Regions from separate parts of the Homo sapiens genome. Here all the other regions are linked to region 2. The links come from fine-mapping of genetic effects on gene expression. A gene starts in region 2. Each other region holds a variant in brackets. All regions are shown on one strand. Distances are from middle to middle. Region 1 holds the start of NFE2L3 (NFE2 like bZIP transcription factor 3). Region 2 holds the start of CBX3 (chromobox 3). Region 3 overlaps SNX10 (sorting nexin 10).

What was found.
Region 1: its variant is fine-mapped to the expression of CBX3 in whole blood (TOPMed, PIP 0.95).
Region 3: its variant is fine-mapped to the expression of CBX3 in subcutaneous fat (GTEx, PIP 0.97).

What each region holds. Positions count from the first base shown.
Region 1 is chr7:26,151,373-26,159,640 of GRCh38, forward strand. It overlaps NFE2L3 (NFE2 like bZIP transcription factor 3), which reads left to right and starts at 826. Exons shown (of 4, transcript NM_004289.7): 1 at 826-1,696. The coding sequence starts at 1,127. RefSeq lists silencers at 615-994, 1,015-1,084, 1,095-1,164, 1,275-1,524, 1,535-1,604 and 1 more and enhancers at 786-1,580, 1,581-2,374, 1,725-1,914, 5,745-5,824, 6,025-6,074 and 2 more. The variant C/T (reference allele first, on the strand shown) is at 4,867.
Region 2 is chr7:26,197,041-26,205,040 of GRCh38, forward strand. It overlaps CBX3 (chromobox 3), which reads left to right and starts at 4,705. Exons shown (of 6, transcript NM_016587.4): 1 at 4,705-4,786; 2 at 5,931-5,982. The coding sequence starts at 5,959. It overlaps HNRNPA2B1 (heterogeneous nuclear ribonucleoprotein A2/B1), which reads right to left and starts at 3,706. Exons shown (of 11, transcript NM_002137.4): 1 at 3,532-3,706; 2 at 582-692; 3 at 275-421. The coding sequence starts at 3,537. RefSeq lists enhancers at 2,148-3,121, 3,030-3,149, 3,122-4,094, 3,260-3,649 and a silencer at 4,590-5,409.
Region 3 is chr7:26,352,772-26,361,039 of GRCh38, forward strand. It overlaps SNX10 (sorting nexin 10), which reads left to right. Exons shown (of 7, transcript NM_013322.3): 3 at 8,204-8,268. Among named protein-coding and RNA genes, the nearest start is that of LINC02981, 42 kb to the right of the region's middle. The variant C/A (reference allele first, on the strand shown) is at 4,848.

The DNA.
Region 1 (8,268 bases), 46 kb before region 2:
TTACATGCATTATCTCATTTGGGGCTCACAAAAGGTCTGCTGGGGAGGTGCTATTATTAGTCTCATTTTACAGTGAGAAAACTGAGGCACAGAGAAAAGGAGAGATTTGTCCAAGGTCGCCCCTCAAGTGGAGGGGGGACTTGAACTCACTCAGGGTAACTGTAGAGCTGGTGCTGTCAACCCTCAAGGAAACAACGGATAAGGAGCAAAGGATACCGAGAGGAGGTCTAGCACTATGCAGAGCACGCCCAGAGAAGAGAGAGGGGTCTGTGAGGCTGGGACTGGGGTGTGCGGAGTGGTGGGATGACTGATCCCAATGGCAACGGTGGAATTTATATGTGAAACTCCGAACTTTACACGAAATATTTCATCTGACCTCAACACATCCCTGTTTGACAGGCTCTATGATCCCCATTTTACAGATAGCGGAACTGAGACAGAGAGGTTACTCTTGCCCACTCTGCCCGCCAAGTGTCCTCACGTTGGGGTGGAAGCCCGTTGCAAGCTGCCAGGCCCCTCGTAGCTGCCCAGTCACTCTCCGCCCAGTCTACACATCCTGTCCCTTCCCACCCAGCTACCCACCACCTAGCCCTCCACCCCAACTCCCGCCCTTGGCTTTCAGCAAGGATGGCCCAGCTCACGGCCACAGGGTGGCAAGGGGCCACTTGGTGCCCAGAACAACTTCTGCTCCCAGAAAGCCTTGCGTTCCCCGGACATAAAGAGGCTTTGAGCTCGGGGAGCCCCGCCCCGTGCGGCCCCTCCCACGGGCGCGGGCCCCGGGCGGCAGGGGGCGTGTTCCTGTCGGCTGCGCCCGCGGCCGGGGGCGGAGCTTGGCCACCGCGCCGGGCTGCGGGCGGCTGGGCGAACGGGCTCGGCGCTCAGGTGGCTCCTTCTTCGCTTCTCCCGATCCCCGGCGGTGCCAGGCACGGTGCCGGCTGCCGAGGGAACGCCTTTGTGCCCGGTGCTGGGAACCCGCGACGGCCGCCACGCGCCCCGGTCCATTGTTTCGCTTATCTGGGTTCCAGGCAGGTGCGGGCGGCGCGCGGGGTCCGCACGTGTCACCCCGGCGGCTGGGGCGCCGGGACCCGCGGGCGCCGGCAGGGGCGTTCCCGGGCGCGCGGCGGCGATGAAGCACCTGAAGCGGTGGTGGTCGGCCGGCGGCGGCCTCCTGCACCTCACCCTCCTGCTGAGCTTGGCGGGGCTCCGCGTAGACCTAGATCTTTACCTGCTGCTGCCGCCGCCCACCCTGCTGCAGGACGAGCTGCTGTTCCTGGGCGGCCCGGCCAGCTCCGCCTACGCGCTCAGCCCCTTCTCGGCCTCGGGAGGGTGGGGGCGCGCGGGCCACTTGCACCCCAAGGGCCGGGAGCTGGACCCTGCCGCGCCGCCCGAGGGCCAGCTGCTCCGGGAGGTGCGCGCGCTCGGGGTCCCCTTCGTCCCTCGCACCAGCGTGGATGCATGGCTGGTGCACAGCGTGGCTGCCGGGAGCGCGGACGAGGCCCACGGGCTGCTCGGCGCCGCCGCCGCCTCGTCCACCGGAGGAGCCGGCGCCAGCGTGGACGGCGGCAGCCAGGCTGTGCAGGGGGGCGGCGGGGACCCCCGAGCGGCTCGGAGTGGCCCCTTGGACGCCGGGGAAGAGGAGAAGGCACCCGCGGAACCGACGGCTCAGGTGCCGGACGCTGGCGGATGTGCGAGCGAGGTAGGTGCAGAGCGGGAAGCGAGCGAAGTGCGGCGTCTACGCCGCCGGGAGCCCCCGAGGCTTGTGTCGGATCTGAGCAGGGGCCACTCTCGCTGTGTCCTGGCACCCTTAGCCCCTGGTCTTTGCAGGTTCGCAGATGCTGCTGCTCTGATTCCGAATGAAGGGCTACTAGTGCTGTCGCTGTGGTTTTTAGGTGTTTAAGGAAGAAGTGGACGAAATCATCCGTTTGGTTATAGAGAATACCTTTCCTTGTGTGTGATGGCTGGCAAGAGTAGTTCGGGGATGGGGAGGGGAGAAGCAATGCCCACTGTCTTCGCTCAGTACCTCATGTACACTGGGGTGTCGTTCTCTGGGACCCGTGCCCGACCTGGACGATGTGAAGGAGGCCGTGACCTCTGGGAGGATGCATGTTTTTAAGAACGACTCTCCCGGCCTAACGCAAGGACCTTCGCCCTGTTTTCAGCCCAATTGCTGTTCGTTTTTGCTGCTTCCCTGGATTAAGGAGCCATGGTCAGGGTCTATTCAGAGGCCAGCCGGCAGGCGGTCCCCCTGTGACCTAACCATCCCCTGCACCTAGCAATCCTCCTTCCTGGAATTTGTGTAACCTCTTATTAGCATAACGAAAACAGGTACCTTGGCAGTCACTTAGTGACTAACAAGTTCCCTTTGGTTTATGGGTCCAAACCCTTCTCTGGCTTAACTTCTTTCTGAAACCAAGTTTACCAAGATCTGTTGCTTGAAACATCTGGTGCTCCCCATGGAACGTTTGAGTTCAGTCTAATGACACTTTAACACCAGTTTCCACAAAACCACTTTACCCAAAGTTCCTTCCAGGGGACTTTTAAAATTCTGTCTTGGCTCAAACTTTAGTGTTTGCAACTGGTAACGATCAACCAGTGGTGATCAACTAATGTTCTTCGGGTGTTGTTTTTGTGGGGCGCATTCTTATGCAAAATGGGAATTGGGGCTAAACTGGTTTGTTTGTTGCTCTTCAGAATTGCCGTTTGTGTAGGCTGTTGCCAGACAAGCTTCTCCACCCTCCTGGAGGGGTCATTGTGTGGAAGTGCTCGGTGATTCACTGTTATGCTGATCTGAGCCCTTCCTCTTCCTGGGGACCGGAACCAATGGGGTGGGGGCCAGTGAGAGTCTTGGAGGGATCCTTCTGTGTTCAGGATATACTGTGGGAGGTTCTTCCCCACTCACTCATCCAATCTGGACCCCATGGGGTCTGTCTCACCTAAATGCTCTGCCCTCTAATAAGTGAGTACTTGTGCACTACCACCATTCCTGGTTCTGTAACACAGAGTTGAAACCTAGTGCTGGATGCTGTACCAGATGGCACTCTGCCACCCACACCCGAATGCCAACCTGTGTGCAAAGTGCACAGGGACCTGGAGGGAGAAGAGAGGAAGCTGTTCAGTCCTCGGAAACTTCCCTCCCGGCATCACCTGGGAGACAAAGTGGCCTTCCCTTGGCTGTTTTTTTGTTTGTTTTGTTTTAAAGACAGGGTCTTGCTCTGTTGCCCAGGCTGGAGTGCAAAGGTGCAATGACGACTCACTGCAGCCTCAACCTCCCCGGCTCCAGCAATCCTTCCACTTCAGTCTCCCAGGTAGCTAGGAGAACTGGCGTGCACCACCATACTGGCTGATTTTTTGTAGAGACAGGTCTCGCTATGTTGCCTAGGCTGGTCTCGAACTCCTTGGCTCAAGTACCCATCCCATCTCAGCCTCCCAAAGTGCTGGGTTTACAGGCATGAGCCACCATGGGTGGCCTAGACTGGCAGGCCTGCCTTGGAGGCATTTTTTGAGCCTAGGCCAGCCAAACCACTGTGGAGGCTCTGAATCCAGCTTTCCTAGGGGAGAGAGTGAAGTTCCCCGAGAACCATTCTCCTGGCAGTGCCTTCCTGGCTGGGCTGGCATGTGTGCACCATGTTCACTGCTGGGATGACCTGGTTACATTCAATCTGGCAAAAATCAGCTGTCCAGCTCCTTACAGTTGTCACGGCCAGTTCACTTTTGTTGCCTTTTACATCAACCTTGTGTGGTGCACTGGCCAGGCACCCTTATATACAATTTGTACTTAAGAAAAATAGGGCTGAGTGCGGTGGCTCACACCTGTTATCCCAGCACTTTGGGAGGCTGAGGCAGGCAGATCACTTGAGGTCAGGAGTTCGAGACCAGACTGGGCAACATGGTGAACCCCATCTTTACTAAAAATACAAAAATTACTTGGGCGTGATTACACATGCCCGTAGTCCCAGCTACTCGGGAGGCTGAGGCACGAGAATCACTTGAATCTGGGCGGCGGAGGTTGCAGTGAGCCGAGATTGTGCCACTGAACTCCAGCCTGGGTGACAGAGTGAGACTCTGTCTCAAAAAGAAAAAAAATGAAGAAGAAGAAGAAAACTAGAAGCCTAGGTTAGGGATTTGGCTAAAGCCACATGTCAGTGCCAAAAGAGAGACCAGAGCCTGAGTCTCTTGACTCTCAGACTGGCACATTAATTAAGTACCTACACGGTACTCAAGCTCTTGGGACATCTAGGACGTCTCAGTGCATCTGGGATGGGGTGACTCAGCCTTCCACTGCCCAGGCTAATCACTCTCCAGTGCTAGATTGTGCCATTCATAATGAAGAGGTTGCAATTTGGAACCATGACTTTGGGGAGAAAATGGGCTGGAAAAACAACACTGGTCTTTGCGGTCAGCTAGACCTGGGTTTGGGAGTATCACCTGCTAGTATGCCCTCCCATAAGCTGCTTGAATCACTCCAAGCTTCAGTGTCTCATGTCAAGTGGGAGAGGAATGTGTACTCCAGGGGGAGGTGTGCTGATTAAGTGGGAAAAGCCCATGGGAAGAGCAGCATGGTGCCTGGATTGTAGCTGCGCTCTTCTGCCCTCCGTCCTTAACCCACCCTCCTTCACCTGTCCCCACTCACTGGATTCCTTTTGGCTTGTCTGCATATCTAGTTTGGTTGGTTATTGAAGAAGTGGGGTATGCTAGACCCAGACTGCCTGGTTTTGAATCCCAGCTCTACCACGTCTGTGACCTTGGACAAGTTGCTTATCCTTTCTGTGCTTCATTCTGTGTGCATTCCCATGCACAATGGGAATCAGAAGGGGCTTACCTCAGAGGGTTGATGTGAGAATTAAAAAGTTCATTCCATGTAAAGGG[C/T]TTAGAACTTGCCTGTCACTTAAGTGCTTAGTTAGTAAATGTTAGCTACTGTTAACTTCAAAGAGACGAAGTGCTTTGTCCCATAGGAACATAATTTTTAATTTTAAAAAATAGATAATTCCGGTGGCTTACATTTGAGTTGCAGGAGTTTTATAGTATAATTTTCCATAATTTATGTACATATGCAAAAATATTTTGGAGTAGGGGATTTTCCAAGTATCAAAAGGAGTACTGTTTTGGTTTCACTTCTTACTGGGGCTTATCATGATCTGAAAACTGACTCTGGAATTCCCCAGGGCTGACACGCTTCCCTTCATAACCACAGTCATTCACAACGGATGAAGCATGCATTCTTCCAAGTAACACACAGGTTAAACAAAGAAATGAACAGTTTTTGTAGAATTGAATGTGTAAACGTATGGAACAGCTGCCTACAGCCAGCTTCAGTATTTCAGAGAGCTGTTGCCACTTTGAAACTGAGAGGGCTTGTAGTCATTTTGATGTGGTTTCCTATCCTGGTACAGAGACCCTCTGCTGGGTGAGGGGTCTGGTAAGACCTCTTGATTAACTGCCTGAAGAAACTGTTGGGCTGGGCCGGGTGTGGTGGCTCACACCTGTAATCCCAACACTTTGGGAGGCCGAGGCAGGAGGATTACGAGATCAAGACATCGAGACCATCCTAGCCAACACGGTGAAACCCCGTCTCTACTAAAAATACTAAAAATTAGCCGGGCACGGTGGCACGTGCCTGTAGTCCCAGCTACTCGGGAGCCTGAGGCAAGAGACTCGCTTGAACCTGGGAGGCGGAGGGTGCAGTGAGCCGAGATCGCTCTACTGCACTCCAGCCTGGGTGACAAAGCGAGACTCCATCTCAAAAGAAAAAAAAAGAAAAGAAACTGTTGGGCTGGTTTCTTCAGGGCACAGAGAGAATCTGATCCAGTCAATATTTAATTTTTTTTGGGACAGGGTCACTTTGCCTCCCAGGCTGGAGTATAGTAGTACCATCACAGCTCACTGCTACCTCAACCTCCTGGACTCAAACAATTCTCCCACCTCAGCCTCCCAAGTAGCTGGGACTACAGACGCGCACCACTGCTTCTGGCTGATTTTTTTTTTTTTTAATAGAAATAAGGTCTCTCTGTGTTGCCCAGGCTGGTCTCAAACTCCTGGGCTCAAGTACAGGCATGAGCTACTGCACCTGGCCTCAATATTTAATTCTAAGAGTAAAGGAAAGAGAAAGAAGGTCCTTGATTGTTAAAGTAAAAATTGTTTTTCATTTCAGAATAAAAAATAGTCCCTAACTCCTGGGCAATTGGACAAGAGATGAAATTTCAGACATTTGCCTGTTTTTAACTCACAGCTATGTTACGGAAATAGTCTTATAATTACATACATTGCGTTTATGACAAGCGTTCACAGTGGGATTTTCATTTTGTTTACTAAAGGAAGTTGTAAAGGTGCACTATTGTCTTTGTATGGGAAAGGATGTCATAAGTTACTGTATGAATTTGCTAGGGCTGCCATAACAAATACCACAGACTGGGTGGCTTAAACAGAAATTTATTCTCTAACAGTTCTGGAGGCAAGAAGTCCAAGATCAAGGTGTCAGCAGATTGGCCCTTCTGCGGGCTGTGAGGGAGAAAGTGTTCTACAGCTCTCTCCTGCCTTTTGGTGGTTTGCTGGCAATCTTTGGCATTCCTTGGTTTCTTCTCCATCACCTGAGCTCTGCCTTCATCTTCACATGGCATTCTCCCTATGTGCATGTCTGTATCCAAATTTCCCTTTTTTGTTGTTGGGGTTTTTTTGTTTTGTTTTGTTTTTTATTTTTGAGATGGAATCTTGCTCTGTCTCCCAGGCTGGAATTCAATGGCGCAATCTCGGCTCACTGCAACCTCTGCCTCCCAGGATCGAGCGATTCTCCTGCCTCAGCCTCCCAAGTAGCTGAGATTACAGGCGCCTGCCACCACGCCCAGCTAATTTTTTAATTTTTGTAGAGACGAGGGTTTTGCCATGTTACCCAGGCTGGCCAGATTTCCCTTTTTATAAGGACATCATTGGATAAGGGTCTACCTTCCTTCCTATCTTAACTTACCTAGTTACATCTGCAATGGACCCAGTTTCCAAAGTATGGGGGTTAGGAGTTCAACATGAATTTTGGGGACACAGTTCAATCTATAACAATCACCATCTTCCTTCCATCAATTCTTGGGGTGTTCAGCTTGCTTATGATTAAAAGCTAACTGAGCTGTTTCTGAAAGCAGCTGGTCTATATGGAGGATCATTTGCATAGGACTTGGTGTGTGCTCCTGAGAAAATCTGGGGTTTTGCTGGCTTGATGTGCAACCCTGAGGAAGCTTGGCTCAAACCATCTTTTTCCAGTCAGTATTTCCCCTCCATTAGTAGGTTACAGAGAAATCATCTTTGCCAAGTCTCTTGTATCATTCTCCTTCTTTCCATGACCCCTACTTCTCAACCCACACAGTGGGAAATGAGCATGCAGGGCCCAAGCCCTGACTTGAGGCAGGCTGGTCTAGGGGTCTTGTGTGCTGGCCCTGGAGTCAGACCAGCTGGGGAAGATCCCAGTGCCACACTGGCTGTGTGATCTGGGGCACACTTCTTAAGTGCTCTGAGCCTTGGTTCCCTTATCCGTAAAATGGAATAGTAAGAGCACCTTAGGGAAGTGGTGGTGAGGATTGAATGAGATAGTGCAAGTTGAGCAGGGTTGATACACTATTAATAATTCAGGTGGGGCTTGTACCGCTTCTTCCCCAATTTACTCCCGTCCATTGTGTTGTCAGGTGCAGGTTTCCAAAGCACACCTTGGTTCGTCTCTCTGCGTTTTGTGGGATGCCTCCTCTAGCTCGCCATTGCCTACTTATTCAGTATTTTGTCATTCAGGGCTGCCCTTGTGGCTTATGTGACCCAGCCCCCAGCTGCTCTTGCTGGGCCTCTCCATGTAGCCTTCTTTCCAGGAGAAAACTTTCTTCATCCCTTTGCCCAACAACCCTATGATCTCCTGCCCTTTAGTCTGTTCTTACCTTTGCCCGGAATGCCTTCCTTTCATTCCTCTCAAGTCTTTTATGGTTAAATTCTCAAACTCAGCTCAACCATCACCTCATCCATAAAACATTTCCTGTTCTTCCCTTTGAGCCCTATTGCACTCTGTAACATTTCTTCTATAGGACTTGGCATCCTCTCCTTTGAACTGCAGTGGCTGGAATGTGGAGACTGGGTCTTGGCTTTCACCTGAAATAGCACCCAGGGACAGGGTTAGGAGCAGAGGTCAGTTCAGCCAGTGTCTGTCTGTTGAGCACTTATCATTCATGACATTGTGTTTGCAGAACTTCAAAGATACCATGGGTGTGAAGGTGTCTTGGGTCCTTCAAGGCCCGAGTCTCAACT
Region 2 (8,000 bases):
TCATCCAAACAGAAAAAAACACAAGCATAATTCAAAGCACCCAACCGTAGTACCATACTTCGCTTGTATCCACCTTAAAACTACCAGATATAAAATAGCTTTTAGGGACCTAGCTTTTGAAAAATAAGCTAGCTTAAGAAAATGGTCCAGAAACCCAACACACCTTTAATAAGAGAAAAAATCTTGAGTTAAAACTAAATTCAGAAATAGTTTCTGATTTTCAGCAGGGCAGCGTTCTTCATGTTAATGCACAAGACAGTCATTGTTTGCTTACCTCTCTTGCTACAGCACGTTTTGGCTCAACTACTCTCCCATCAATTGAATGAGGTCTTGCAGCCATGGCAGCATCAACCTCAGCCATGGATGAAAAAGTTACAAAACCAAATCCTCTTGATCTTTTGCTTGCAGGATCCCTCATTACCTTTCAAACCAAAGGGTAAACTTTAGCATTTAATCTCATTATAGCTTATAAGTGAAGTCATAATAGAATTTTTTACTATGCTGATAGTTATTTCCTCCATGATTCACTTAACATACAGCTAAAAGACTAATATCCAGTAACAATTCAGTAATTTACATACCACACAGTCTGTAAGCTTTCCCCATTGTTCGTAGTAGTTCCTCAAACTTTCTTCTGTGGTTTCAAAGCTTAAGCCACCAATAAAGAGCTTACGGAACTGTTCCTTTTCTCTCTGCAAAGGAAAATACCATTTCAATTTTTATTTACATTTTCCTCTTTGTATGCAGGAAATTAAATTCTTAAATATGAGGTGACCTGCTGGCAGAGTACCTTTTTCCTCTCCAAAGGAACAGTTTCTAAAGTTTTCTGGGGGGAAAAAAAAAACTTACATCAAATTTAAACCATATGTTAAACTGCATATTAGTTGTGTTACACCAAAAAATTGCCTCAGCTGATCTACACAAGTTTCAAAGTCATTAATGCTTGATATAAATTTACTCAACATTAAATTATCTTAAATTATTAATTAAAAAAAAAACTTTCTAAGGAAAAATAAACAAATGTAGACCGTGATTATCAAAGGATTATTAAAGAATCTTTACCAAAAATTTCAACCCTACAACCTAAAAACGCAAATTTCTATTTTTAAACATCAGAAAATAACTCTTGGTTCATTACTTATGACCCAAAGTTTTTATTTCACTATTCAATATCTGAAAAGTATCATTTATTTTCCCTTAACTGCCCCCTCTGGTGGTGATTCTAAGTATCTCAGCCAAAAAAACACAACTTTTTACAACAAACACTAAGTTTCTCCATATGACTCTCAGTTACGAAAATATTTAAAGATATGCATTAGAAATAACCTTAAAAATTACTCTTATAACCAGGACAAATTAATTTTTATGACCAGCAGCACTCGAAGCTTAAAAAGTTTAATTTTTGGTGGACATGTCTATATTTGATATATGACAATACAGAATATGAATTACTCAGCTTAACCATATGTACAATAAAATACATTCACGTGGCATAATCTCTAAGATAACAATTACTGAAAGCTGAAGCTTACTTGATTGGCCATGTGGCAAGCGACAGGCACAAAACAATTTTCCAAGTCAATAGGAAAAACCTCAGAGCTGAAATCTTTATATGCTGTACTACACAGCTGTATTCTGGGCACTTATGAATGTTAAGGAAACCTGTCTTAAAAGTTAACTAGGTTAAAAAACCTCAAACGAGAGAAAGTGATATCCAGGACCAACTGCTACAAACGCATAATGCAAACTAAAAAGTCACACGTAATTTTCAATCAATTATTTTTTGTTCCTAGCAAGCAGCATTAATTGCTGCTCTCATCCCAGTTCTACGGAGCTCTCCCTCCATTCGCATGCTCCCAACTCCTAAAAAGTAGTGGTAAAACCCAGTTCAGATTTTTTTCCTGTAGTTTTCATGACTCGTAAAAATTAAAGAAAAAATTAACTGAAATGATCAAACTAGCTCCTATGAGACACAAAGCAGTCTTTTGAAATGGTTACTTGTCACGATAGTTATTTTCATTTTTTCAGCTAGTTTTTATTCTTAATTGTCGTCAGCACATAGGTTATCTCTAAACTGAAATTACGGATAATGTACATTTATAACAAGTTTTACAAATCACTAACAAAAAGCAAAAACTCATTACTTACCTCACAATTTATCCAAACTTACCCGATGTCCACTATCGATTTTAAACAATGTTATTTTATAAACGTGCTTAGGGTCAAAGAAAATAACCAGGTAGACCCCCTTCGCTTGAGACCTTATGCTTATCAATGTAATGTTCAACCAAGATTGCAAACAAAATGAGAAAAGTAACAAAGTTCAAATACAGAGCGGCCCAGGCCCAAAACAGTTTTGCACATCAATCCATACGCATTACAGGAAGGAGCCTCTGAAGCCATGTTTTAATCGAAGTATAACTAAGGACAAAATCGTTATTTCACTTTCCTCGTAATCATCTATAAAGGTCCATGGATCTGTCCCGTAAGGGTTAAACTTCTCAGTAACAACATTACTTAAAATGAGTCAGCTCTACAACTTAAACGGAATCCTTAAGAACAGTAAAGGATTCTGACGCGAATATCCCTCCCCCGCCCAGAAAACCACCTTCGTCCCTGCCCCTCGTGGCCGATGGCTTCCAATTTATGTTTATTTTGCCGCGGTTCATCTGTCGTTTTACTGACTGCAGACCCAGATAAAACCGTTACTCAAAGGAAAAAAAAGACAGGAAAAACATAAAATGGTTTCTTTGTCCTACGGCTCGCATTGAACCCGGCCCGACGCCCTGGGTGGTGATATCTTCTCTGAAACCGGGCCCGCAAACCCGGAGCACCCCCCCTCCCCGCTCTTCGGTGTGGCTTCCGAACGCAATGGCGCCATTTCATCGAGGGGAAGGCTGAGCGCCTTTAATGAGGTGCGCAGGACTCTAAAGATCCAAGCTCACAAAACACTCCAAATCCACCTCGAAACGATATGAAAACAGCCCGAGAAGAAAAAAAAATAGTTAACCACTTCTACTTCTTGATAGAGAAAGCACACTAAGAAAATAAAAGAGTTATAAGGAAAACGCTGAGAGGAAGGCGAGCCATGAAAATGGCGGCCGCCAAATCCGGTTCCCGGGAGAGAGGGGGAGGGGAAGCTCCGCAGCCTCGCTCACGAGGACCTGCTGCCCGCCGAAACGCTCGCCGAGGAGACGCCGTGGCCCCCGAAGCAGCGTGCTTTAGAAAGGGAATAAGAATTCCCGCCTCCGCGCCCCACTTTCACCCCAGCGGGGCAGCGTCCGCCATGTGAAAGCTCCCCATCCCCCACCCCCAGTGAAGGGAAATGGCGCCGGGAGGCTGAGGGTGGGGAAGCTGTTTGTACGCTCAGGCCTCCGCTCAAGACCCCGTTCATAAACCTTAAGCCCCACTGCTACTGAATTGGTCCGATTTCCTGCCTCTCTCCCACGGAGGCGGCTGGCCGACTTCCACTGAGGCGCCAACGGCCTCGCCATGCCCTTTTCAATAACTCATTGATTTCAAACCCGTTACCTCCATCGCGGACTCAGTCGCTTCAGCCCGATTTCCCGCAGCCGAGCGAGATGAGAGAGATCTCCGCGGACGAACACGAACCGGACTCGTCCTGGCGCTGTAGTGAGAACTGCCGCTGCTCGAGAAACAACTCTGCGAGGAGCACCTCCGCACGGGACCCGGCGCTGCTGCTACTGCCGCTAGAGCCGCTGCCGCCGCTTTTCTAGAACCTTCCCCCCCACTAACGCGTCTTCCGCTACGTCAGGCCGTCGCGTAAACGCCCTATCCGCCGCCAATGGCGGGAAGGCTCTACGCCCCACCTTACGCCAAATGCGTACTCCTCCCACCCTTGCGGCCAGAGACAGTACCCGACGTTACTTCCGTAAATGCGCTCAATGAATTGCGGAAGGCTAGAGTCCTGCTAGTTACTACCTCTTGGAATAGGGTCCCGCCCCCTGCCTTGGCGCAAGGCAGGTGAGAAACGGTCGCGCAGTTTGAAATTAACGCCGACGGGAGGGGCTTAATCCGCAGCCTGGAGATCCAGCCCCCTCAACCCGGGAGGTGGTCCCTGCAGTTACGCCAATGATAACCCCCGCCAGAAAAATCTTAGTAGCCTTCCCTTTTTGTTTTCCGTGCCCCAACTCGGCGGATTGACTCGGCCCCTTCCGGAAACACCCGAATCAACTTCTAGTCAAATTATTGTTCACGCCGCAATGACCCACCCCTGGCCCGCGTCTGTGGAACTGACCCCTGGTGTACAGGAGAGTTCGCTGCTGAAAGTGGTCCCAAAGGGGTACTAGTTTTTAAGCTCCCAACTCCCCCTCCCCCAGCGTCTGGAGGATTCCACACCCTCGCACCGCAGGGGCGAGGAAGTGGGCGGAGTCCGGTTTTGGCGCCAGCCGCTGAGGCTGCCAAGCAGAAAAGCCACCGCTGAGGAGACTCCGGTCACTGTCCTCGCCCCGCCTCCCCCTTCCCTCCCCTTGGGGACCACCGGGCGCCACGCCGCGAACGGTAAGTGCCGCGGTCGTCGGCGCCTCCGCCCTCCCCCTAGGGCCCCAATTCCCAGCGGGCGCGGCGCGCGGCCCCTCCCCCCGCCGGGCGCGCGCCCGCTGCCCCGCCCTTCGTGGCCGCCCGGCGTGGGCGGTGCCACCCCTCCCCCCGGCGGCCCCGCGCGCAGCTCCCGGCTCCCTCCCCCTTCGGATGTGGCTTGAGCTGTAGGCGCGGAGGGCCGGAGACGCTGCAGACCCGCGACCCGGAGCAGCTCGGAGGCGGTGAAGTCGGTGGCTTTCCTTCTCTCTAGCTCTCGCTCGCTGGTGGTGCTTCAGATGCCACACGCGTCCCGGGGGCCCGGTTCTCCGCTCCCCTCCCCTCCCCTTCTCGCCGGACCCCGCGCCGGGAGCTGCGGGAAGGAGTGGAGGGTCGGGCGGTGGCCTCGCGGCTGGCCTGGCGCGCGGCCAGCGCCGGTAGTTAGTGGGGGGACTGCTCTGCCCTCGAGGGGGTAGGGAGCTGTGGCGACGGTTGCCCCATTTCGAGACAAAGCGCATTTCCCCCTCCCCTCCCCCACCCGCGTTCCGGCGGAGGCGCCCCCTCCCCCAGCCGCCACGCGGGGCTGGGTCGAGACTTGGGCCTCCCGGAGGGCGGCGCGTGGTCCCGCGTCCGCGAGGCCTGGCGGCGCGCGGCCGGCTGTCCCGAGGCTGCGGCGACCGCCCAGTTAACGTGGCCGCCGCGGGGGTAGGCGCGTGCGGTGTGGCGCAGTGCCCTTGAGCCCCCGTGCCGCGGCCTTTGTTTCTCCCCGCGGATGCGCTGACCACGAGGCCCGCGCTCCCGGGTGGGGGCGGGCACCCGCGCTTAGGCCTCTGGACGCCGGGCTTCAGCGGCGGGGGTCGGGAGCGGGTGTTTGCAAGAGGTGATTCTTTTTTCAAAGTGTCACGAAACGGGGTTGAAGCATCTTAAGTTTTTTCCTTTTGTTATTTAATTACCGATTGGAAAGAGGGAGGGTTTCTGAGCAGAAACCAAGTTGGGATTGCAGAACAGAGAAGATTCACAGTGCTTTACCGTTGTGAGTTGTTTGGGTAATCGTGCCTGGTTTTAAACCGAAAGGATTGTCCTTTAAAAATGGAACATGGACTTTATTATAAATGGGACTTAGATTGGAAAAGACATTGGTCCCCTATTTTAAGCCATGTGAAGCTGTTTTAGGTACCAGGATCCCCAGTAAAGTCTTTCTAGACTCACATGGTTAGGACACGTACTTAAGTACATCATAAGCAATGTAGGTAGGAGCGCAGATCTACTCTGGATTTGTATTCACGTTTGAAATGTGCGCTCTCTACTTGGGGGTTGGAATCCAAACAGAATTTGTATTTAGTTACCTTTTTTGTGTCATGCAAACTTACCTTAACTGTCATGCATTTTTCTAGTAATAGCTCTTCAAGTCTGCAATAAAAAATGGCCTCCAACAAAACTACATTGGTAAGTTAATGAAAACCTAAAATATGTAAGGATTTAACTCAAGTTTTTTTTCCCCACAGTATAACTTTGCATCTCTGTGGCTGAGAAATTTACATCCACATATTTCCCAGCTCTCCCAGTGTAAATTACAGGGGAAAATTAAGAGAAAAACGAATTCATTACAGGGAGATACTGGCTTGGCTTAATAGTGTCTTAACTAGTTCAAAGAAGGCTAATCTTTGAAGGACAGTGCAATGTGGATTTTGCTGAGGATTTTTATCTTCAAATAGAAATACACACATTTTTGCAGCGTTGAAAAATGTTACATAAAATGGTAAAGCCCTTGTTGGTTGGCATAATTTTTCTTAAATCCCCAGAATTCTGGAGAAGTATTTTCATTAAAGCCCAATTTAAAGAACAAGGTACCTTGTGCACCTAGGTTGGAGCAAAAGTCATTGAATCTTTCAAATTACTTTGGTCACTTTATCTTGTTTTAACTTACTCTAAAACATAGAAGAATATTAAGTTTAATTCATTGCAGTGTTTTGTTTTTTAAACAAAATGATCGAAATCGCAAATATGAGCCAGAAGGGAGAAAAGGCTAGATTTTTTTTTTATCTTATTCAGCCATGTCATGTTACAAGTTTTTTTAAACCCTGGAATATTCACATAAAAATCATGAAATTCAAAGTTACAGTTTTCACAATATTTAACATTGCATTAATCTTAAACACGTAAAGGTGAATGTTAATGTCTCCTAGGTAAAATAAAGCATTTGTTTTTGGCTTGTATGTGCTCTCTCTGGGTTTCACACTAAAAAGGGCACGTTAGTGATTTTTAATTTGTGCCATCATTAGATTCTGCATTAAGTCTGTTTACCCTGCATTAGATTCTGCATTAGATTCTGTTTACCCTGGAAAACAGAAGTTGTTTTTGCACGCAATTGATAGCCTTTGGGGTCTGTTATTGTATTTAGTTTATTTTGTGAAGGATCACAGGTTGGCCACTTTAAAAGTTCTTAACTTTCCATTTTAAAAATTCATTAGTGTTGTGAGATATGTGTGCTGTTAATTTCACTTAAATAATGGGAAATTTATTTTGACTCATCCACTTTTGGAAAAAAGTGCTGGGTTAAGGCAAATATATACTATAAAAGAAAATAGTGAGCATTTGAAACTAGCTTATGAATGCCATAGTAGTGAATGAATACTGTATGGCATTTTGTCTGCCTTTTTTTTTTTGTAAACCTTAGTGTGTATCCTTTTCATTTTCTGTATTTATTGTTGACTTTATTTTGTTAGCCTTCTCCCTTTGTGGCAGTAGCTGTTTTGTTTTTCATGTAGTATAGGTATCTGATACACTTCTGTCTATTACAGTTTGTCTTTGCTCCTCCCACCATTATTCCTACCTTCTTGTACTGTACAGTGGCAGAAAGCTGTTTGGGCCCAGTACTCAAGTATCTTGACTAATGAGAATCATAACACCTGACTTAGAAATGGTATCCAAAAACGTCAGGTGTTTGCTGCATGTTTTTGTATTTCAGGGGATTTTTATTTTGTGTGTGTGTATGTGTTACCTATATGCTTGCATAGCTTGAAATGCCCTTTTGCAGTCTTGAGGCCTTTCTTACATATCTGTCTGCACACTTCATATGCCTGCATAGCTTGAAATGTCCTTCTGTAGCCTTGAGGTGTTCTTAACTTTTTTCTGCTTGCTGCTTTACTTGTGGGATGGCTTTAATGATTGAGCAATTAAGGTTTATCTTTTTTAAATAGTATTTGGGTTTTTTGTTTTTGTGTTTTTTTGAGACAGAGTTTTTCTCTTGTTGTCCAGGCTAGAGTGCAATGGCGTGATCTTGGCTCACCGCAACTTAAGCCTCCTGGGTTCAAGCAGTTCTCCTGCCTCAGCCTCCCAAGTAGCTGGGATTACAGGCATGCACCACTATGCCTGGCTAATTTTGTATTTTTAGTAGAAACGGGGTTTCTCCATGTTGGTCAGGCTGGTCTCAAACTCCTGACCTCAGATGATCTGCCCACCTC
Region 3 (8,268 bases), 160 kb after region 2:
GGTTGTTCTAATTCTCTATTTAATTAGGATTCAGATAAGGACCACACATTGCATTTGGTTGATACATTGTTTAAAGTCTTTAATTCTCTCTTTTCCCCCTTTTGCAATTTATTTGTGGAAGAAATTGCATCTTTTGCCTTATGGAGGTTTTCACATTCTAGATTTTGCTGATTGCATCCTTGTGGATGCCAATTATTTCTTACTGCAGAAGAGGAGGTTTTTTTTTTCTGCACTTTTCCTGATGTGTTACAAGATATGAAAAGGTAACTCGCTGATTTGGGATACTACTTGTGTAAAGAAACTTGCAACATTGTGAGCTATTATAAGTCATGTAAAAGGCAGGTCTAGCTAAATCTCATTCACAGTTGTTTATCCTGAAGTAATAAAAGCTTCTCAAAAAATCATCATTCAGTACCACCAGAGGATGGTATTTAAACATACTCCATGCTGTAGAGTGGCAAGTAATATCCCTTGTCATATGTCTCTTAAGTTATTTGTTACAGCTGTTATTAGGAAATAAAGAAAGGTTGCTTGATATATTCCTTTTGCCCTTCTATTTTGTTATTTGTAAAGAATATAGTATATGAAATGTGCTAGATTTTAGTTGTGAAATTGTTATATGGGGGTCCTGAATAGCACTCTGGTGATTAACACACTGGTAAATGCTTTTTTTTTTTTTTTTTTTTTTTGGTGGGGAGACAGAGTCTTGGTCTGTCGGCCAGGCTGGAGTGCAGTGGCACGATCTCAGTTGCTCACTGCAACCTCCGCCTCCCAGACTCACGCAATTCTCCTGCCTCAGCCTCCCGAGTAGCTGGGATTACAAGTGTGTGCCACCACACCTGGCTAATTTTTGTATTTTTAGCAGAGACGGGGTTTCACCATGTTGGCCAGGCTGTTCTCAAACTCCTCACCTCAGGTAATCTGCCTGCCTTGGCCTCCCAAAGTGCTGGGATTATAGGCTTGAGCCACCACGCCCAGCCCACACTGGTAAATTCTATAATCATTAGTTGTATGGAAAAGTACCTAGCGCATTGTTGTTGCACAATATATTTTAAGTGAATGAATGAGTCTCCAGTGTAAATACATGAACATGTAAAACACTACTTTGAAATAGGAAAAAAAATGTCCCAAGAAAAAGAACAAACTGAGACAAGTTTACATTTTTATGTTAGAAAATTCTCATCAAAGCTATGAAAAATTAGTATTCACTTAACACCTAGACATTCTGCTTTATTAGCTTTCGTCTTTTGTGATCTTTCTGTAATCTAAGTAAATATTTTTACAGTTAACACCTACTCATCTTTACTGTGCTACAAAGATTCAAACTAAGCTATGATGGAAAATTTTAAAAAACACACCTATCACAATGGCTAAAATAAAAAATAGTGATAATCCCCCTGGAAACTGTAATAGGTATGTATGATATATCATTGTAGGGTTAATTGTATTTCCCTAGTGGTTAACGATGTCGAACATCTTTCTACGTGCTTGTTTGCCATCTGTATGCCCTATTTGGGTGAAATGTCTCTTCATATCTTTTGCTTGTTTTCTAATTGAATTCTATTTTTTAAATAAGAGTAAGTGAATGAGTGTTTTGAGACAGGGTCTCTCTTGTTGAGGCTGGAGTGCAGTGGTGTGATCTCAGCTCACTGCAACCTCCCACCCACCCACCAGGCTCAAGCAATCCTCCCACCTCAGCTTCCTGAGTAGCTGGGACTACAAGTGTGAGCCAGTACACTCAGCTAATTTTTAATTAGTTTTTAAATGTTTGTTTAAATGTTTGTTTAATTAGTTTTTAAATGTTTCACCATGTTTCCCAGGCTGGTCTTGAACTCCTGAGCTCAAGTGATCCTCCCACCTTGGCCTCCCAAAGTGCTGGGATTACAGGAGAGAGCCACCTCACCCGTCTGATAGTTTTGTTTTTTTTTAAAATATATTCTAGATGCAAGTCCTTTATGGGATGTGTAGTTTGCAAATATTTCTTCAATCTTTAATTTGCCCTTTTAACCTTATTCACGGCATCTTTTGCAAAGCAAAGATTTTTAGTTTGGTGAAGCCTAATTGATCACTTTTTCCTTATGTGGATTGCCCTTTTGAGATAAGTTGAAGAACTCTTCTCCTAGTCCTAGGCCGAAAGATTTTCTTTGATTTTTTTTTTTTCTAAAAGTTTTTCTAAAAGTTTTCTCTGATGTTTTGTGTTTGACATTTACATCTGTGGTTTGGTTGGTGTTGATTTTTGTATAAGGTGCACGCTTTAGGTTGAGGTTCATCTCTTGGCCTGTGGATGTCCAGTTGTTCCATAATCATTTGTTGAGAGGCTTTTCCTTCTCCTTTGAATTGTTTTTGCACCTTTGTCAAAAATCAGGTGGGCGTATTTGTGTAGGTCTCCCTCTGGGTTTTCTGTTCTCTTTCACTGATCTTCTGTGTCTATCCCTCTCTAGGACTCCATTGTCTTGCTGCTGTAGCCTTAACATTGGGAAGAAGGCTTCCTCCCACTTTATTCTTTTTCAAAAATTTTTTGGCTATTCTAAGACATTTCCCTTTCCATATAAATTTTAGAATAAGCCCATCTATGTCTTCAAAAAAAGTCTTGCTGAGATTTTTTATAGGAATTGTGTTAAACCTACAGATCAATTTGGGGAGAATTTCTCTCTTTACTATGTTGCGTCTTCCAATTTATGAACATAGTGTGTCTCTGCTTTGATTCCTTTCAATAGCATCTTAGATTTTCAGCATAGAGGACCTCTGCTTTTTAAAAAATCTTGTCAATCAGTTGGTTAATTCTGAAACATTTAATATGCACTTACTATGTGCTAGTACCATGCTTGGTGCTAGAAATACAAAAATGAAATACAAAGCTTTAAGAAGCCAGAAGGACAGAGTTTGAGAAGAGCATGTTGTCTGAACTGGCATTTTAGCTAATAAAAGCAGAAAAAACTTCCCCCTCCAAAACAATACAATTACAGTGAAATTGGAAATTGCCTAATATTTATTATTAGTAAAAGAATCACGAGATAGAACATGTTTGAGAGTACAGTCTTTGGAACAAGGCAGATCTGAGTTTGAAACTTAGCTCAGGCTGGTCATTTGACTTTGGGCCAGTTGCTTAAGCTTTAGAAGCCTCATTTAAAAAATCTGTAAAGTAGGATGAGAATATACTGAGCTCTGAGGGTTGTTGTAAAGATTGAAGAAAACATTTGTGAAACGGTATAATGCCTGCCACATGTCAAGTGCCCTGGTATAATACAATACAGTTATTTTTATTATTAGTTTCATCTCACTTAAGGGCTAAGGAAAAAAATGATAGGGTAGAAGTGGATAATGGTCAAACCTGGGGTGTGGGGATGGGGGAAAAACAGGGAACATTGAAATCAAAGGCTGATTATTATAGGATAACACAGGAATTAGATCTTCAAAGAGTCTAGGAGTCTTTCTTTAGAAGTCTGTTTTCACATGGAGAACAGCAGGGACAGTTAGTCTAAATTTTTAATTCCACTCTGCCTGGCTTTCTCATACTACATATAGTCATTAGGCCCAAGAAGTCATTAAAGTGTTTAATAAGGTTATTAAATTGACTAACTGCAGCTGCTGAAGCAATTTTCCTAGGAAATCCATATGATTCTAGGTAAGGGGCTGTGGAACTGTCCTCTGTGGCTGACAGCCTGTCAACATTCCTTTGAAGGATGGCGGGCAGTGTCGTGAGGGATGCGTCTAATTAAGAGATTAGAGGTGAACCTTGGCTTCCTGGGTGTGCTATTTGTAGCTGAGAGTATGGGGAAACTTCACTAATTCCTACTAATTGCAGAGTGGGGGAGGAGGAGACCCATGTGAATTATAGAATATTTTAAAATAAATGTACTTTTATTACTTTCAAGTACATATTTTAACTCCCACTAGGCCAACAAATTGTTGCCTGGTACAAGTCTTAGGGGACTAAGTTACTGAAGCTATCAGAAGGATTTTCAATTATTTCTATGTAAATAGGTGCTTCTGGAGTTCTTTAGGGTGCTAGAAAACAGTTTGTTCTCCCAGATCTTAAACATTGCTCTTGGATCCTTATGCTGTTAATTGGCACATCCTTAGAGGAAGGGGTTTGTTAAATTAAGATAAACTTAGACCAGCTGCTAAATAACTTATCATTAATTCATGGAGCCCAAGAACCCAAGTAGATGAGGTTTTAATTTCAAGTGAAGTTTGATTTTCCTTTCCTGAAGGCAGTTTGTTTATTCCTACAGGCATTTATTTATTCATTAAATGATACTAATGGAAGGCATTGGATGTATGAGGCATTCAAGTCTTACAAGACAGCCTAAGCTGCCCTACAGGAGCTTAGCGTCTGCTAGAGGAGGCCTACAGGTAATTACAATACAGCACAGTAGGATGTGGTGAGTAGGGACTATGCCCAAGGCAATCCCAGAGACATTAGGGGCCCAGAGGAGGGTCAAATAAGTCATACTGGGTGAATCTGAGAAGGGTTCCCAGAAAAAGTGGTGACCGAGTTGCATTTGAAAAATGAATTGGAGTTGGCAAAAAATAGTAGAAGAAAAGAGAAGATTAAAAAAAAAAAAAAAAAAAGGCAGTAGGGTGGCCTAGCAATCCAGGCAGAGAACAGCTTAGTTAAAGGCATGGAAGTGTGAAGTGGCATGTTGCTTATGGGGACCTATGCTTAGCCTTTGAAGATAAGCAGAGTGAAAATCATGAAAGGCTGTATTGTGCTAGCTGAGGAGTTTGAACTTGAAGGTTATGGGGCAACCTTTGAAGGATTTTCAGAAGGAAAGCAACATCATCAGATACGTGTTTTGGAGCCATTCTTGTCTTCATGTGGGGAATGCACTGGATATGGGCCC[C/A]GAAATAAATTAGCAGTTCTTGCATTAATGTTGGGCAAGAGGTCCTTGAACCAAGGCAGTAGCAGAGGGAATAGTTGTCAGTGGTTCCAAGGAGAATGACTATGAAGGACTTGGTCTGTGTGGATTTGGGGAATGAGTCAAACAGAGGGGTCTAGGAGAACTGGGTTTCTAGCTGGGGTTGGTGGGAGATGCTCTTCACTGAGAAGGGGAGCAGGATGCTGTGGGAAGGGTATGGACATGGCGTGCTCAAGGGACTTCTAGGTGGATCAGGCTAGAGGCTGGATCCATGGGAGAGGTGCCTGCACTGGGATGGAGCTTTGGGTGGGGTCCATCAGCTCATGGGAGGGGGTTGAATGTGTTTGGATGAGGTCACCCTAGAATTGCAATAGTGTGCAAAGAACAACAGCCTGGGTTGGCTCTCAGGCACAGAAACGTTTCAGGATGCAGAGAGGGAAGAAGTTTGCCATCCACAAGAGAATAGTGATATTTAGCACTCCAACCAAATTAAAGATTTTCAGGATTGAAACAATATGTGGAGTCTTAGTGCTGCAATGAATTTTGAGTGTGCATTTAAAAGTTTAAGAGACACACACACATACACGGTGACAAGAGATGGAGGTGAAAAGCATAGGCCAAGAGCAGAGTACCTGGATTTTTGCTTCTGTTTCCATCCCTGGGCAGAATCTGCTTTATCACACTGTGATTAGGGGATATTATGGATATTTGGTTTAAAAATGGTTTTTAAATCCCTCTTATAATTTAGAATGTGCTTTTAAGAAATGATGGTTGTCTCTTAATGCGCATGAAAAAAATAAAGAAATAGAGAAGAAGAAATACTGGCTGGGGCACAGTGGCTCATGCCTATAATCCCAGCACTTTGGGAGGCTGAGGCAGGGGTGTTGCTTGAGCCTAGGAGTTCAGAATCAGCCTGGGCAACATAGCAAGACCCCATCTCTAAAAAAATTAAAAAATTAGCTGGGCATGGTGGCACCCGCCTGTAGTCCAGCTACTGGGGGCGGGGTTGGCTAAGGTAGGAGGATCATTTTAGCCCTGGAGTTTGAGGCTGCAGTGAGCTGAGATCGTACCACTGCACTCCAGTCTGGGTGACAGAGTGAGACCCTATCTCAAAAAACAGAAAAAAGAAAAGAAATAATGGCCAAAGAGCATCACTATAGTGTTATCTTGTGTTTTTTTTTTTTTTTTTTTGACCAAGTCTTGCTGTTGTTGGCCCGGGCTGGAGTGCATTTAGTGGCGTGATCTTGCTGCAACCTCCGCCTCCTGGGTTCCAGCAATTTTCCTGCCTCAGCCTCCTGAGTAGCTGAGATTACAGGCGCCCAACACCATGCCCAGCTAATTTTTGTATTTTTAGTAGAGATGGGGTTTCACTATGTTGGCCAGGCTGGTCTCGAACACCCGACCTCTGGTGATCCACCCGCCTCAGCCTCCCAAAGTGCTGGGATTACAGGTGTGAGCCCTGCCTATCTTGTTCTTATTCTATCCCCTAAATGATTTTAAAAATACACAATGAAAATATTTTAAAAGAAGACTTTTTGGAACAGTAATTCATAATCCCTGTCTACTAAAGACAAGTAGTGGGACAGAAGTCTCCAGTGCAAGGACAAAGTGTTGCCCTAGAAGGTGAAACTTGATAGGGGCAAAAGTTATTTTCAGAGTGTGGTGTATTTTTTTGATTAAAAAAAATCCTCTATGATGAAGAGTCTCATTTAATTATCTGCATGATTCAATGGAGGTGCTTTGTCCAGAAAGCCCCCGATCTCTCTTTTTCTTCTGCTCTCAAGCGTTCATAGCCTGCCTCTCAGATGTGCCCCAACAAGCAATAAGAAATGCCTGAATTCCAGCATTGAACTCCCAATCTTATCAAAAAGCTCTAATATTTAAAATCAAACTCAGTTAGCAAGTTTATGATCACTGAGTAAATAAGTTATACTTAAAAACTTATGTGAAACATGATAGTTTTTTGCTGTACATTTTCAAATTTTTAAACTAAACCTATTTAGTAAAGAGCACCTGTTAAAAAGTATTGTTTTAATTTTTTTTTTTTTTGAGACGGAGACTTGCTCTGTCGCCAGGCTGGAGTGCAGTGATGCGATCTCGGCTCACTGCAACCACCGCTTCCTGAGTTAAAGCGATTCTCCTGCCTCACAAGTAGCTGGGACTACAGGCACACGCCACCACGCCCAGCTGATTTTTGTAGTTTTAGTAGAGACAGTGTTTCACCATGTTGGCCAGGATGGGCTCAATCTCTTGACCTTGTGATCTGCCCGCCTCGGCCTCCCAAAGTGCTGGGATTACAGGCGTAAGCCACTGCGCCCGGCCTATTGTTTTAAATTTTGCCCCATGTTTTCTATTCTTATTATCTTTATAAAAGAACAAAATTATCTACTGTATATGATTTTTAATATCCCTAACTTCTATGTATAACACAAAGGTATTATGAAGATGAAATGATTTAATGTAGGGGAAATGTATTTTAAAAATAGAAAAGTATTATGTAAAAGAAGGTGTTCCTCTTTCTATTAATAAGTTATTATCGCTTATTCTCATGTGGCTGGGATGCATGCACAAAGTCAACTTCAACCCTCTTTGCTTACTTTTCCCATGAGCTTTGGTGTCCTTTCTTTTTCTTCTTTTGATACAGGGTCTCGCTCTTTTGCCCAGGCTGGAGTGCAGTGGCACAATCAAGGCTCACTGTAGCCTTGACCTCCTGGGCTCAAGTGATCCACCCTCCTCAGCCTCCTGAGTAGCTGGGACTACAGGCATGCACCACACTGCGCCTGGCTAATTTTGTATTTTTTGTAGAGATGGGGTTTCACCATGTTGCCTAGGCTGGTCTCAAACTCCTGGGCTCAAGAGATCCTTCCAAAGTGCTGGGATTACAGGTGTGAGCCACCCTGCTTGGCCTGGTGCCTTTCTTATTTGTGTCCTAGGAAGCACCTTACCCAGAAGGGCCCATTGTTTCAGTTTAGAGAGATGAAGAAAGTAAGAAATGATCACTTTTTAAATTTGAAAAAAACCTGAACCAATTATTTAAGATTAAAAATTAAAAATCAGTTTTACAGTATACTTTGTCTTCAGATAACCAGTAAAACTATCCAGAAGTGCTCCCACCTCAGTGTTGCATTATTTTAAAAATTCCATTATGTGGCAAAAGTGTGTTCTAGATTTGCTCGTGGTGCCTGATTCATTAACTTTACTTCTTGTTTTTTAAAGGATTACAAGTACCACATTGGTTAAAGCTCATTTCAGTTTTGTTTTAGTGCAGTCGTTTTGTTCAGTTCTTTCCAGTCCTACTTGCAGTTCTGAAGAATATTTCTTTGTTTATGATGCCATTACAGGAATTTGTAAGTGTCTGGGTTCGAGATCCTAGGATTCAGAAGGAGGACTTCTGGCATTCTTACAT